4 separate regions of the Homo sapiens genome follow, and all the other regions are reported to be linked to region 1. Evidence: microRNA targets listed by miRTarBase, many of them from high-throughput screens and not tested one by one. Region 1 holds a microRNA gene; each other region holds the end of a gene's coding sequence.

Evidence for each region. The annotated mature microRNA hsa-miR-4253 reads AGGGCAUGUCCAGGGGGU and lies in region 1 at 2,000-2,017, shown strand. An mRNA with a match to its seed (bases 2 to 7 or 8) in the 3' UTR can be bound and repressed. Matches are read on the target gene's strand: a 7mer-m8 pairs with bases 2 to 8, a 7mer-A1 pairs with bases 2 to 7 and ends in A, and an 8mer does both.
Region 2: miRTarBase lists TGFBRAP1 as a target of hsa-miR-4253. Seed matches in the 3' UTR shown: 7mer-A1 at 258-264.
Region 3: miRTarBase lists MDK as a target of hsa-miR-4253. Seed matches in the 3' UTR shown: 7mer-m8 at 2,600-2,606.
Region 4: miRTarBase lists SPATA2 as a target of hsa-miR-4253. Seed matches in the 3' UTR shown: 7mer-m8 at 2,308-2,314.

The regions. Positions count from the first base shown.
Region 1 is chr1:22,862,186-22,865,185 of GRCh38, reverse strand. It overlaps MIR4253 (microRNA 4253), which reads left to right and starts at 1,960; the gene lies at 1,960-2,027. EPHB2 (EPH receptor B2) reads right to left here. Exons shown (of 16, transcript NM_017449.5): 4 at 1,994-2,149; 5 at 1-309. RefSeq lists a silencer at 1-161.
Region 2 is chr2:105,264,349-105,267,681 of GRCh38, forward strand. TGFBRAP1 (transforming growth factor beta receptor associated protein 1) reads right to left here. Exons shown (of 12, transcript NM_004257.6): 12 at 66-3,211. The coding sequence ends at 3,035. Among named protein-coding and RNA genes, the nearest start is that of GPR45, 24 kb to the left of the region's middle.
Region 3 is chr11:46,382,890-46,386,222 of GRCh38, reverse strand. It overlaps MDK (midkine), which reads right to left. Exons shown (of 5, transcript NM_002391.6): 5 at 2,422-2,754. The coding sequence ends at 2,729. It overlaps CHRM4 (cholinergic receptor muscarinic 4), which reads left to right. Exons shown (of 2, transcript NM_000741.5): 2 at 1-2,434. The coding sequence ends at 1,105. Among named protein-coding and RNA genes, the nearest start is that of MDK, 2.9 kb to the right of the region's middle.
Region 4 is chr20:49,902,583-49,905,915 of GRCh38, forward strand. It overlaps SPATA2 (spermatogenesis associated 2), which reads right to left. Exons shown (of 3, transcript NM_006038.4): 3 at 809-3,333. The coding sequence ends at 3,037. Among named protein-coding and RNA genes, the nearest start is that of SPATA2, 11 kb to the right of the region's middle.

The DNA of each region.
Region 1 (3,000 bases):
AGGCGAACTGAGGCGAGAAGGGGCTCTGGTCAGTAACGCCGTTCACAGCCTGGATCTCGAAGGTGTACTGGGTGTGGGCCAGCAGGTCACTGATGTAAATGCGTGGCTCGGTCAGGCCTAGCTGGCGTGGTGCGTACTGTACATTGTCCCCGCAGCGGGTGCAGGCACCCCGGCCCGAGCCACAGCTCTTGCAGATGATGTTGTAGACGAGGTCCTCTCGGCCTCCGGAGTCGCGGGGAGGGGTCCACTCCAGCATGAGGGAGGTCTCATTGACACTGGAAATCACAGCCTGGGGCGCGGAGGGGATGGCTGGGGCGGGGGAGAGGTGTTGGTCAGTGGGGGGCTCAGGGGGTACTATTCCCCATGTGACCACTCTGTGCCCGCTGCTCTGGCTCAGCCCCTCTGAAAGGACTTCCTTAAATTCTTTGTCCTGTCTCCCCACCAGAGAAATGTTTCTAGAATACAAGTTAGCCTGCTGTACATCTGCCCAAACCTTTCTCTCCTCCCAGCTTACAAACTGCTCAGTGTTTGTTACTGAGGATAGTATTTTTGCGTTTGGAATTATACCTGCCCAGTATCTATTTTCTCCTTCTTCCTTAGAACAGCCCAGCTTTATTCATGGTGGCAATATGTCCAGCTAAAAGATGGCATTTCCCAGCCTCCTGTGTTTAAGTGCTTGCCACTGATATAGAGCAGAAGTTGTTGACTAGGGCTGTTTCTTTAAAAAGAGACAGACAGCTATGGCGTGTCCCTTTGTCCTTTCCCTGCTTCTGCTGCCTAAAATGTGGGTGATGGCTGGGACTTCAGCAGCTATGCTGGACTATGAAGTGACGTTAAGAACAGAAACAACAGTGGCTAACACCTGTAATCCCAGCACTTTGGGAGGCCGAGGCAGGCGGATCACCTGAGGTCAGGAGTTCAAGACCAGCCTGGCCAACATAGGAAACCCCGTCTCTACTAAAAATACAAAAAATTAGCCGGGCATGATGGCGGATGCCTGTAATCCCAGTTACTCGGGAGGCTGAGGTGGGAGAACCACTTGAACCCGGGAGGTGGAAGTTGCCATGAGCTGAGATCATGATGCCATTGCATTCCAGAGCCTGGGCGACAGAGTGAAACTCCATCTCAAAAAAAAAAAAAAAAAAAAAAAAGAACAGAAACTAGGTTGGGCGTGGTGGCTCATGCCTGTAATCCAGCACTTTGGGAGGATGCGGGAAGATTCCTTGAGCCCGGGAGTTCAAATCTAGCCTTGGCAACATAGCGAGACCCTGTCTCTACAAAAAATTAGAAAAATTAGCTGGGTGTGGTGGTGCACGCCTGTAATCCCAGGTATTCAGGAGGCTGAGGGCAGAAGGCTGAGGGCACCTGAGCCCAGGAGGTTGAGGCTGCAGTGAGCTAGGATTATGCCATTCTGAATGGCAGAAAGAGCCAGGCCCCAAAGGCCATCGTGGATTGCCCATACTGTCCCAGGACTGTCTACCTTGGGCTCCTTTTGGGTGAGAGAATAAATCCGTACAGTTTCAGCCATAGGGCTCAGCTCTGTTACTTACAGCTGAATGCCATCCCTGACAGATACAGGGGTTGTGACGCTGCGTTCTCAGGCAGTGCCTTCCTAGAGGACCTTGGGCTGTGATTCAGGCAGCTGCTGCCAGGTTAGAACACTGGGCAGCCTTTTCTGCCACATATACTACCTGTGTTGCTTCATCTCCTGCCAAGCCTCCCATCCCCTGTCCCTTTGTGAATCCAGACCTTGACTTTATCTTCCATGTGACTCAGCAGAAGGGGGTAAGGAGCCAGATGCCAGCACTGTGGTGTCTGCAAGGTGGGAGCATGGCCACCCCAGGATGCCCCTTTCTTGAGCACTTTTCCATTTCTCTTCCCACCAGGGAAAGACTGGCTGTAACCGGACGGCACCCAATCCTCACTCTGAGCTTTTCTGCAGGTAGACCTGGGACTCGGCCAGCCATCGCCCTTGAGGGGCCCTAGGACTTACTTGTGCAGGGCATGTCCAGGGGGTCCAGGTCTGCTCTGTAGTAGCCATTGCGGCAGACACAGTTGGTGGCCCCTTCAGAAGTGGTCCGGCTGTTGATGGGACAGTGGGTACAGGCCTCATCCCCTTGGTTGGCCTTGAAAGTCCCAGATGGACAACCTGAGAGAGAAGACAAGGAGAGTCACCAGGAAACTGGATGAAGACTCAGAGAGGTCACGAGCCACGCAGCCTCACGGAGGGGCCACACAGCCTCGCGGAGGGGCCATGCAGCACCACTGCTGGAAAATCTCATCTCTTGAAGGGTTTGAAGTCTCCAGGCCCCAACGTGGGAGTTCTAATTCTGTCAGGGCTCCCTAGTTTCTTGTCCGTGAGCTGTCTAGGGCTCCCAGCAATCTTCCCTCACCTATCCCAGCTTGGCTGTGTCATGGTCTCTAGAATCAATCCTGACCTAGTTAGGAGGCACATCTGAAGATGTCTGGGGCAGTGTGCATGGGTCCTGGTCTTGCTTAATAATGTCTGGCTGGGCCCTGATTCTTAGAACTAGATCCTTGGGTTACAGACAATTAAGATGATTATACGGCAGAAGAAAAGTCCTAGGGCAGTGTAGAGAGGTGATGTGGTAGAATAGAGGAGGACACTACTTTTGGAATAAGACCGACCTGGCTTTGAGTACTGGCTAGGCCTTTTACTAGCTGTGCAGCCCCAGACAAGCTGCTTAACTACTCAGACTCAGTTTTCTTATTTGTAAAATTAGGATTCTAAGGCCCATCTCTGCAGGGTCATTGTGAGTATTCTGCTTAAGCGTAAGGCCCATGGCACAAGGCCTTGCACAGTATAGGTGCCCAATGAATATGTGATCAATTTATTAAAATATTAATAAAAGGCGGGCCTGCAGTACCAGGGCCAGCCTAAGGAGGGCACTGCTTGCACTCGGCCCTCATTTGGCTTCTCCCATGGGCTGTGGCCATCATCCCTGATATGGAGTCCACCCCCACTGTAGCTCTGAGTAT
Region 2 (3,333 bases), not on the chromosome of region 1:
GCAAGAAGGTACAGATTCTAGAACTCTTTATTTAGACTAGGTATGGTGCGAGTGAAAACCATCACTCCATCAAGGCAATTTTTATTTTAAAAAATTACAGAAAGAACAAAGAACTAAAAGAATTTTAATAAAATGAGCAAGTTTACATTTGTACATTTTGTGTATCTGGGACCCAATCGGGACAAAGGATAAAGTTGCAAGGACAAAGGTTTCTGTGGGAGAGCAAGCAAAAAGCAAGGGCTGCCCCAGTTGCATCATGGGCATCCATTCAGAGCTGGGACCCCGCAGCCACCTGCCTGTGCTCCGGAAGTGAGAAGCACATGTAAGCACGCGTCAGTGAGAGCGTCGCAGTTGAACTCAGCCCAGTGCAACGCAGCCTGAGTGACATCCCTACATTAATACTTGATAGGGAACAGCAGATAAACAGTTCCAAAAACCAAATGGTATTGCCCATAGAATATGAATGTAAACTGAGTTCAGTTCATGCTGTTTTAACCAGAATGGTTCCACTGAACCTAATGAGGGGAAAAAGGTCTGATGGATCTAATTGCTCTATTCGATGGCACAGTTACAAATCAGCAGGCCTGTGAGAAAGAACCATACATTTCTCTCAGAAATATGATTTGAGAAAAGGGCCTTGTAGGAGTGAGAGAAAGGTTAGAGAAAAGTACAGTTTTAACATATGAGACAATTCTTCATACTGTAATAGAATGCTGCTTGTGGTGAAGGATTTGGTAGAGATGGAAAACTGCTCAACTTTAATTCCCATTATTCTAAAGGATGACAAACATTTTAGAGTATTGATCAATGTTCAGTGAAAAAATAAAAATGACTAGTGTTGGCTGGGCGCAGTGGCTCACGCCTGTAATCCCAGCACTTTGGGAGGCCGAGGCAGGCAGATCACGAGGTCAGGAGACCGAGACCATCCTGGCCAACATGGTGAAACCCCGTCTCTACTAAAAATACAAAAATTAGCTGGGCGTGGTGGCATGCACCTGTAGTCCCAGCTACTCGGGAGGCTGAGGCAGCAGAATCGCTTGAACCCAGGAGGTGGAGGTTGCAGTGAGCCGAGATTGCGCCACTGCACTCCAGCCTGGGTGACAGAGTGAGACTCTGTCTGTGTGTTAGGAATGAGAAATTACTAAGTTTTTTCAAGATTTTACCCATTTTGTGTACAGAGAAATAAGCTTTTAATGGCGCAATGTTGCATATACGGGTAACTTGTTCTTTGAGAAATATAAACTCAAACTCACAAGTTGTCATGATAACATATGCAGTAATATGACCATTCTACAACAGAGTCACCCACAGGTAAAACACATGACTGGGCTTTGAGCTCACACCAATTTACACAGCATACAGTTGTGCTACAAGGAGAATTTCTTCATCATTTATTCTTTAGTTAATTGAAACATAGTCAGGAAAAAATGGTGCCAATTCCCCCCAAACAACACATGGATGTTTTTGCTTCTTGACCCACTTAGAGTCCCAAAAGGACAAAAAATACATGGACCAATATTAGTTCACGAAACATGTTTTAAAGAACAGAGAATGAGGTCTTCATCCCACCTCAGTAAGGCTTGGGCTGATGAAGAGAGGGTGTATTCAGGGTCCTCTCTTGTCATATGTACAAGCTGACGCTTGTTTCCCAAGCATGATAGTAGTGGGTAGACTGCCTTTATTGTTAGCCCCTAATAGAATCAGTCAGCACAATGAAGAAATTCCAAAGAGGGCAGTGAAGTGACAACAGCTTCAGCTCGTCATCGATGTTATACAGAAACACAAAAGGAATCCCCGGCCTGTGATGAAGGAGAGGCCGTTGCTGTGTGTTCAGGACACCTCAGAGCAGGCACATAAAGTGCTGGAGGGTGACACAGCCTGTCTGGATGTCCTCGGGAGGGTGTGCCATCCAGGAGGCGACACCCCCATCCAGCACACGGGCCCTTCCACCCGCTGTCGGTCCTGCTAAAGGTACGAGGCTAAAACCGGCCTCTCCAGAAAAGAACGCTCAGTGTGTGCTGACCACACTTCCCTTTGAATTTCCCGAGTATTCAACAGGAGATACATTTTAACAAGAAAAAATACCCCTAACAAACAGGACAGATGACTCTCTCAACAAGAGAGCAACTACGAACATGATACAAATTTAAATAAAAATGTTTAGTTCAACGTGTTCGTCATGGAGTTTCAAATCAGCAGATGCCATGACAGGAAAGGAGCACACAGCTGGGCCCTTGCCCGCCGTGGGTTTCCCGTGTCCGCGGCTTCTTCAAGGAGGGGAGAGCAGCTTCTCTCTTGGAGCGTTCTCAGTTTCTCAACAGATCTTCACTTGCTAGGCAGCCAGAAGCATTAGTTCACCCAAGAGTGAGTGCTTGGGTACACAAGGCAGAATCTTTTGGGAGCTGAGAGCCGGAGAGGAAGAAAGAAGGAACAAAGGTACTTCTCCAGGGTCAGCCGTTTCTGAGGGCAAAGGCAGAGCCCACGAGGTAACCCTGGGAAATGGGCCCATGAGTGAGCGGCGTGGATGGAGAACGTGTTTCTGCAGGAGGGCAAGGCTGACCCCCATGAGGCTCTGTGCCCTCGCCACTCACCCAGGCAAGAGAGGACTTTGTCGCCAGCCATGGTGAAGCCACGTTTCCAGTGCAAACATGAGTCTAAAGGTTGGAGTGTGGGGGTGGTGGGGGATCCCCCACCTGGGTCTGGACTGCATGAGGAAGACTCCCTTTTTTTTTTTTTCAAAGTAGACCTCTGTCTTGGATTACTATGTACCTGGACAGGTGAACTCTTGTATGTTTCTGTTTTGGGGATTTTTAGGGGTTTTCCATGTACATTCATAGAGCCTGGTCATTCCATGTACATTCATAGAGCCTGGTCAGCAGCGAGGAGTCCTTGTTGCGTATGGACGGAAGGCTCCCTGGCACCCAGATGTCTCCCTTCGTCCTGGCTGACACAGAGCATGGTGGTCATCTGCTCTTCATGTCCAGCAGGCTCAGAAAGAACTCGGAGTTCCCCTCGCACCCTTGGGCCAAGCTTTTCAAGTCCGAGTGCCAGGACTGGATGAGCTGGGGTTTGTGTGTCTGCTGGCGGCACAGTGGGTGTGCACAAGACCACCATTTGGGTATCTAACAAACACAGGCTCACAAAAGGGATTTTGGCATATCTGACAAAGCTTTTTGTCTGAGAGTTGGATTGAGCTTCCTTTCAACTTCATCTGCAAGAAGAAACCAAGACTGAGAATGCTGTCATGTGTTAAGTATATTTAAAGTGGCTACGTTCTAGTTTTGCAGAGTTGACATGCATTACTCCATGGGTTATTATTATGATGAGGATTTC
Region 3 (3,333 bases), not on the chromosome of region 1:
CTACGTGGTGAGCAACGCCTCCGTCATGAACCTTCTCATCATCAGCTTTGACCGCTACTTCTGCGTCACCAAGCCTCTCACCTACCCTGCCCGGCGCACCACCAAGATGGCAGGCCTCATGATTGCTGCTGCCTGGGTACTGTCCTTCGTGCTCTGGGCGCCTGCCATCTTGTTCTGGCAGTTTGTGGTGGGTAAGCGGACGGTGCCCGACAACCAGTGCTTCATCCAGTTCCTGTCCAACCCAGCAGTGACCTTTGGCACAGCCATTGCTGCCTTCTACCTGCCTGTGGTCATCATGACGGTGCTGTACATCCACATCTCCCTGGCCAGTCGCAGCCGAGTCCACAAGCACCGGCCCGAGGGCCCGAAGGAGAAGAAAGCCAAGACGCTGGCCTTCCTCAAGAGCCCACTAATGAAGCAGAGCGTCAAGAAGCCCCCGCCCGGGGAGGCCGCCCGGGAGGAGCTGCGCAATGGCAAGCTGGAGGAGGCCCCCCCGCCAGCGCTGCCACCGCCACCGCGCCCCGTGGCTGATAAGGACACTTCCAATGAGTCCAGCTCAGGCAGTGCCACCCAGAACACCAAGGAACGCCCAGCCACAGAGCTGTCCACCACAGAGGCCACCACGCCCGCCATGCCCGCCCCTCCCCTGCAGCCGCGGGCCCTCAACCCAGCCTCCAGATGGTCCAAGATCCAGATTGTGACGAAGCAGACAGGCAATGAGTGTGTGACAGCCATTGAGATTGTGCCTGCCACGCCGGCTGGCATGCGCCCTGCGGCCAACGTGGCCCGCAAGTTCGCCAGCATCGCTCGCAACCAGGTGCGCAAGAAGCGGCAGATGGCGGCCCGGGAGCGCAAAGTGACACGAACGATCTTTGCCATTCTGCTAGCCTTCATCCTCACCTGGACGCCCTACAACGTCATGGTCCTGGTGAACACCTTCTGCCAGAGCTGCATCCCTGACACGGTGTGGTCCATTGGCTACTGGCTCTGCTACGTCAACAGCACCATCAACCCTGCCTGCTATGCTCTGTGCAACGCCACCTTTAAAAAGACCTTCCGGCACCTGCTGCTGTGCCAGTATCGGAACATCGGCACTGCCAGGTAGGCAGGCAGGAGTGCCCTAGGAGGTGCTGGTGTTGCGTGCGTGTGCTGGGGGGACCACACGGCTCACTTGCTGTGGGGAAGAGTTGCAGGCACCATTCTGCGTTCACGTTTGCTGAGGAGGAAGTTCAGAAGAGGCTCTGTGGCTGCATTCAGAGACCAGATCTCTGCTCAGGCTGAGGAGGCTCACCCCAGGGAGTGTCTGAACTGGGGCTGCCTGGCCCACCTCTGTGGCCCTGCTTCAGCGAGCTGCGGGGCACTGGCCTGGGTGGGCACCTGCCCCACTGTGACCAACCATCAGCAGTGCTGGAAGAATGGACATCTGGATGGGGGCCGAAGCCCAGGGCCCCCTCAGGAAGAACAAAGGGGCCAGTGCTTGGAAAAGGAGGCTTGGGAAGGGAGTAGAAGGGTGGGGTCCCCCATTCTGCTGTAATCGGTGCTTTCTGCCCCCTTGCACCCCGCATGTAGGCTCAGCCCCCTCTCCCCAAATCCCACTCCAGGGGCAGAAATCTCCTCTGGCTGCAGCTACTTAGCCAGGTTCTGGGTGGGTATGATGGAGGCCAGGTCCCCCCCGCCCCAGCAGCACTGCCCTTGTCACATTAAGATGGGGCAGCTGGGAGGTCAGAGGTTCTGTCTCAGGAACTGAGGTCTGGCCTTCTGCGATCCCAGGCTGAGCCGTGAGTGGTCCACGTATTCAGAAGACAGCCCCCTGCAGCCCCGGCCTTAGAAGGCTGTCCCAGGTCACACATCGAGTCAGGGTGAGGCTGTGGTGGATGGCATTCCCATCTGCCCTCTTCAAACCTCTCACCCCCTGGCTTCTGCAGGGTGGAGGCCTGGGTCACACAGGCAAGAGGAAAGGGGTCAACCTGGTGGCTCACTCGGGTTTCCATGACAGTGGGAAGGGGGGAGGTGGGCAGTGAGGTAGGCACGCAGCCCTCGCATCTGCTCTCCCCCATGGGTAGAACCTTCCTGATTGGCTGTGGGTTGTATCAAAAGACCTTTGACTGGGTGAGGCTGAGATGGGTGTGGTGGTTCCAGTGAGTCAGCCAGGTTCCCTTCCCCAGCCCTGGTCCCTGAGGGAGATGAGGACCGAAAGGCTTAGGTGACTTGATGGGGAGCACCCTTTCAGGGGCCCTGGAAGAAATGTTTGTAATTGTTCTGCTTTTTCCATGAGCTCTGGAGAGCACCCACCACCAAGCCCCCTGAAACCCACCAGTCCCTACAGCCTGGTCTTTCTCCCCACCTTCCCACTCCCAAACACATTTCCACAGCAAACTCCTTGGGAAGGGGCTTTTATATATTAAAAAAGAAGAGCTTTTATTGGGGGGAAAAAGTCAGTTTATTTGATGTGTTTCTTAGTAATGGAATTGTGGGGAAGAACAAAAGCGGGCTCTGGGACTCACATTGCTTTGGGGGAGGCTCAAGCTTCCCAGAATCCCTTGTCCCTCCCCACTTTGGGCACTTAGGGGTGGGGCTGGGGAGTGAGAGGGACAAGGCAGGGCATGATTGATTAAAGCTAACGAGCAGACAGAAGGCACTGGTGGGTCACATCTCGGGCCTGGGAGAGGGAGGGCGTGGGCCAGGCCCCATGTGACACCAGGGGCTCCTTGGCATCCAGGCTTGGCGTCTAGTCCTTTCCCTTCCCTTTCTTGGCTGTAAAACAAGAAAGAAATATTAATACCATATCAGCAGTTAGGCTGACCCATTGCAGACCGCCGGCTCCACAAACACCCGGGCATCAGGGAAGGAGAAGATTCTGCCCCCTAGTGGTTTCCAATCAGCTGACTCGGAAGCAGGGGATGGGGCAGCCATTGTGATGTGGACATGGGACATCCCCAGCTTCCTATTTCCACTTGGGATCAGAAAACCTTCAAGTTTCCAGTCCTAGTCCTGGTCACAGCAGCCCTGGGCATCCTCAGCCTCCTCACCTGAGAAGCGGGCAGATTCACCCCTGCCCTGCTGGCCTCGCTGGGCTGAGTCACGAGTGAGCTGAGAGGCCCAGGGTGGGCCTTGACCTCCTCCCAACACTAGAAAGGGCAGAGCTGACCAAATGCTGCCCGTGGCTGGAGAGCTGACAAAGGCAAGCCGTTCCAGGACACTCTCCCTGGGTCCTAAGCCAGATGCTCCAATGGAGTAGTTTGAGTTGGTCCCTATTTGGGCCAGGGAGGATTTATGTCCCCAGCATCACCTGCGGCCTCTCTTGTAGTGCCCATCTTCAGACTTTTCCAGGCA
Region 4 (3,333 bases), not on the chromosome of region 1:
TAAGATGGAGATGGTAACAGTGCCTATTTAATAGGATGACTGAAGCTAGTAAGTAAGATCATGCACATAGTCTCAGGATACAAATGCCTGGCGGGAGGATCACTCGAGCCTAGGAGATTGAGACCAGCCTGGGCAATATAGTGAGACCCCACCTCTACAAAAAATTAAAATTAGCCAGACATAGTGGTGCCCACCTGTAGCTACTTGGGAGGCTGAGGTGGGAGGATCACTCAAGTCCAAGAGGTCCAGGCTACAGCTAGCCATGATCACACAACCGTACTCCAGACTGGGAAGTAACAGAGCCCGTCTTAAACTAAAAAAAAAAAACATGGCCGGGCGTAGTGGATCACACCTATAATCCCAGCACTTTGGGAGGCCGAGGCAGGCAGATCACGAGGACAGGAGATCGAGACCATCCTGGCTAATACAGTGAAATCCCGTCTCTACTAAAAATAACGAAAAATTAGCCAGGTGTGGTAGTCCCAGCTACTTGGGAGGCTGAGGCAGGAGAATGGCGTGAACCCAAGAGGCGGAACTTGCAGTGAGCTGACATAGCGCCACTGTGCTCCAGCCTGGGCGACAGAGCAAGACTCCGTCTCGAAAAAAAAAAAAATTTTTTTTACAAAAAATTAAAAAAATAAAAAGTGCCAGGCTCGCAGTATAGCACTCAAATGCTATTTGTCAGTTTCATGGAAGAGAAAATTTAAGTCTTGTCATTAAAAAACTAAATACAGCTTAAGGAAAAATAAACTCCCAAGTAACCAAACTTCAAAGCAGGGCCAGGGGACATAAAACCCCAAACACTTCATTTAACAATGGAAGACACTTTATTATTATTATTTTTAATCATCTCTCAACATTTCAACTCTTGGTAGAAATCAAATGTAAAACATCTGCATTTTTAAATTAGCATGTATTTAACTATCTCAATCACAGCAACCTCATCCAGTAAGATGCACACCTGGGAGCAGGGCTGTAGTATTTCGTATTCCAGTCTGTGACCACAGTGCGTCCGTGATGACAGGTACACTGGACTTTCCCTCCTAGGATGTGTTAGTCATTCCTGCTTTTGTCCATAGGGTAAGTTACGTGGCATCACGGTTGGTTAGAAAGAGTTAGTTACTGTAATGCTGGCGCAATCTGGAAATGGAAAACTAGAAAACTAGAGCTCTCAGGAGTGGGCCAGGCATTGCCGATTCTGAAATGTGAAAAGGAAGAACATCAAAGATGAATGCCCTGCTAGGCTGGTCTTAGTAATAAAGTTGGTTGAAATTCAGCTTAATATACACACTGTACATCTACATGTGATCTACCAGATAGATATATATATATATATATATATATATATATATATATATATATATATATATTAAAAAGAGAGCCATAGAAGATTTGGAAAACCTTAAAATCACTCAACTGAGTTGGAAGAACATCAGCAAATTCACAGTGGCCTCAGGATTCAGCCAGACTTAAACTTGCTCAAGAGCTGAATAACTTTCTCCCAGAAAAGCCCACTGCATATAAATCCCTTAACATTGTGTACATCACAAACAGTTATGGCTAAAATATAGTTAGTTCACAAGGAAGCGGCTTTATTTTCAAACTCTTGCCCCACTCCTGCTCTTGTACCCCCACAAGGAAAATCCAGGGGTTGGTAATTCACATGAGAAGCTGAAGGGGCCTTCAGGCTTGGAAGCGCTTAGGCTTAGCTGAGCATCTGAGGAGCCGTCTCTCTGATGGGCACATGCCGACTCCTGCCCACTTTTAGTGCAAAAAGATTGCAAATGTTGCAGATGAGTCCTGGAAACTGGTGAAGAGAAGAGGATTGAGATGGAGGGGCAGTAGGAATCCCAAATGATTTTCCTTCTGAAACGAGACTCAAGAAGTGTGAAGTGCAAGGTTCCTGCTCAGCAAGCTATAGGTCCGACAGGTGAGGTCCCTGAATTGTCATAGGTTAGCAGTCTGCAGACACACAGACCTCGACACCCGCGCTCACCCCCTAAGTGCACACTGGAGGTAGGTGTATAGATAGTTACTGCAGGGAAGACAGTGGCTCTCCACCAGCTCAAGAAAAGGAGGCTTCATGTCTGTTCCTCCCTGCCCCAAACTCTCCTCTCCCCTCGGGCCATAGTGAGTGGAGGATACAACACGAATGGGCGCGAGGCCCTCCCTTGGAAGACTAAAGAACCCAGGGCATTTAATAAATAGCTACATAATTCATTTTTTTAACCACGTTGAAACACACAGCAAGTTGAATATTTATTTAAAAATAAATCTCAAAAATATCTATTGACAGTACAGTAAGAGGGGCATGTGCAAACAACAGAAAGGGGGAAGTCAGTCCTGCTGTGGGAAGCCCACACATCAGTGTGTTGGAGCAAAGTTCACGAAGGCCATGGGCTGACTGAGCTGTGGTGTACGAAATGACATTCAGCTAATACTGGACTCGGTTCACCTTTGACACCTGGAGAGGTGGGGAAGCCAGGGGGTGGGGAGTCCAGCTGGGGATCCTTGTGTTTAGGAAGGGGGCGGCCAAGGGATGAGCCTTTGGGAGAGGCCCCGTGTGGCAGGAGGGCTCATTTCACAAGCCAACAGGCCTCTAGCTCGCCGCTCCAGGTGGATGTTTGGTGACCTGAAGGGCCCTTCCCAGTCCAAGTTGGCTTTGCAATGGGAGGGGTAGGTGCAGCGAGGGTCCCAGAGACAGAAATCCTCTTTAAAGGAAAAAACAAAACAACAAAACAAAACAAAACAAAACCCCAAAAAAAGAACCAACTGAACAGGGAGTGGAGAGATTAGCAAAATGAATCTGAACGGAAGTGCCACCTTCTCCCTTGTCAGACAACAAAGCAGCCATTGGTTGAGATATCTGAGTCGCTAAGTGAACTCCCACGTGGACACAGCCAGCCCACGATCTCTGCCACCTACATGGTCAAGTGCAGGCCTCCGCCTCTGAGATCAATGCGTTAGTACTTCTTCACCGTGAAACCCGAAAGGTCGGTTGATGTAGCCCTTGGAGCTGGAAGGGGCGAGGCCGGTCTATCTGTACACGAGATGGGAGAGCTGGGTGGACTTGTAGTTCAGCTGGTTGTTGGGCATGAACTTGTGCAGCTCACTCTTTTTGTAGCAGGGGTCATAATGGTAAGCGCTGAGGCAGGCGTCACATGAGACTTTTGAACACTGGGTGCAGGTGTTGGTGGCGCCTGGGCGGTTGCAGAAGCCACAGCGGGAAGTGGGCGTGGTGGAGGGCTTGGATTTGGAGTGAAGGTGCGGGAGGCGGTCGAGGCCCTGAGTCTGGCCTGGGTACTTCTCCCGCAGAGATGCCCCGTGGGCCAG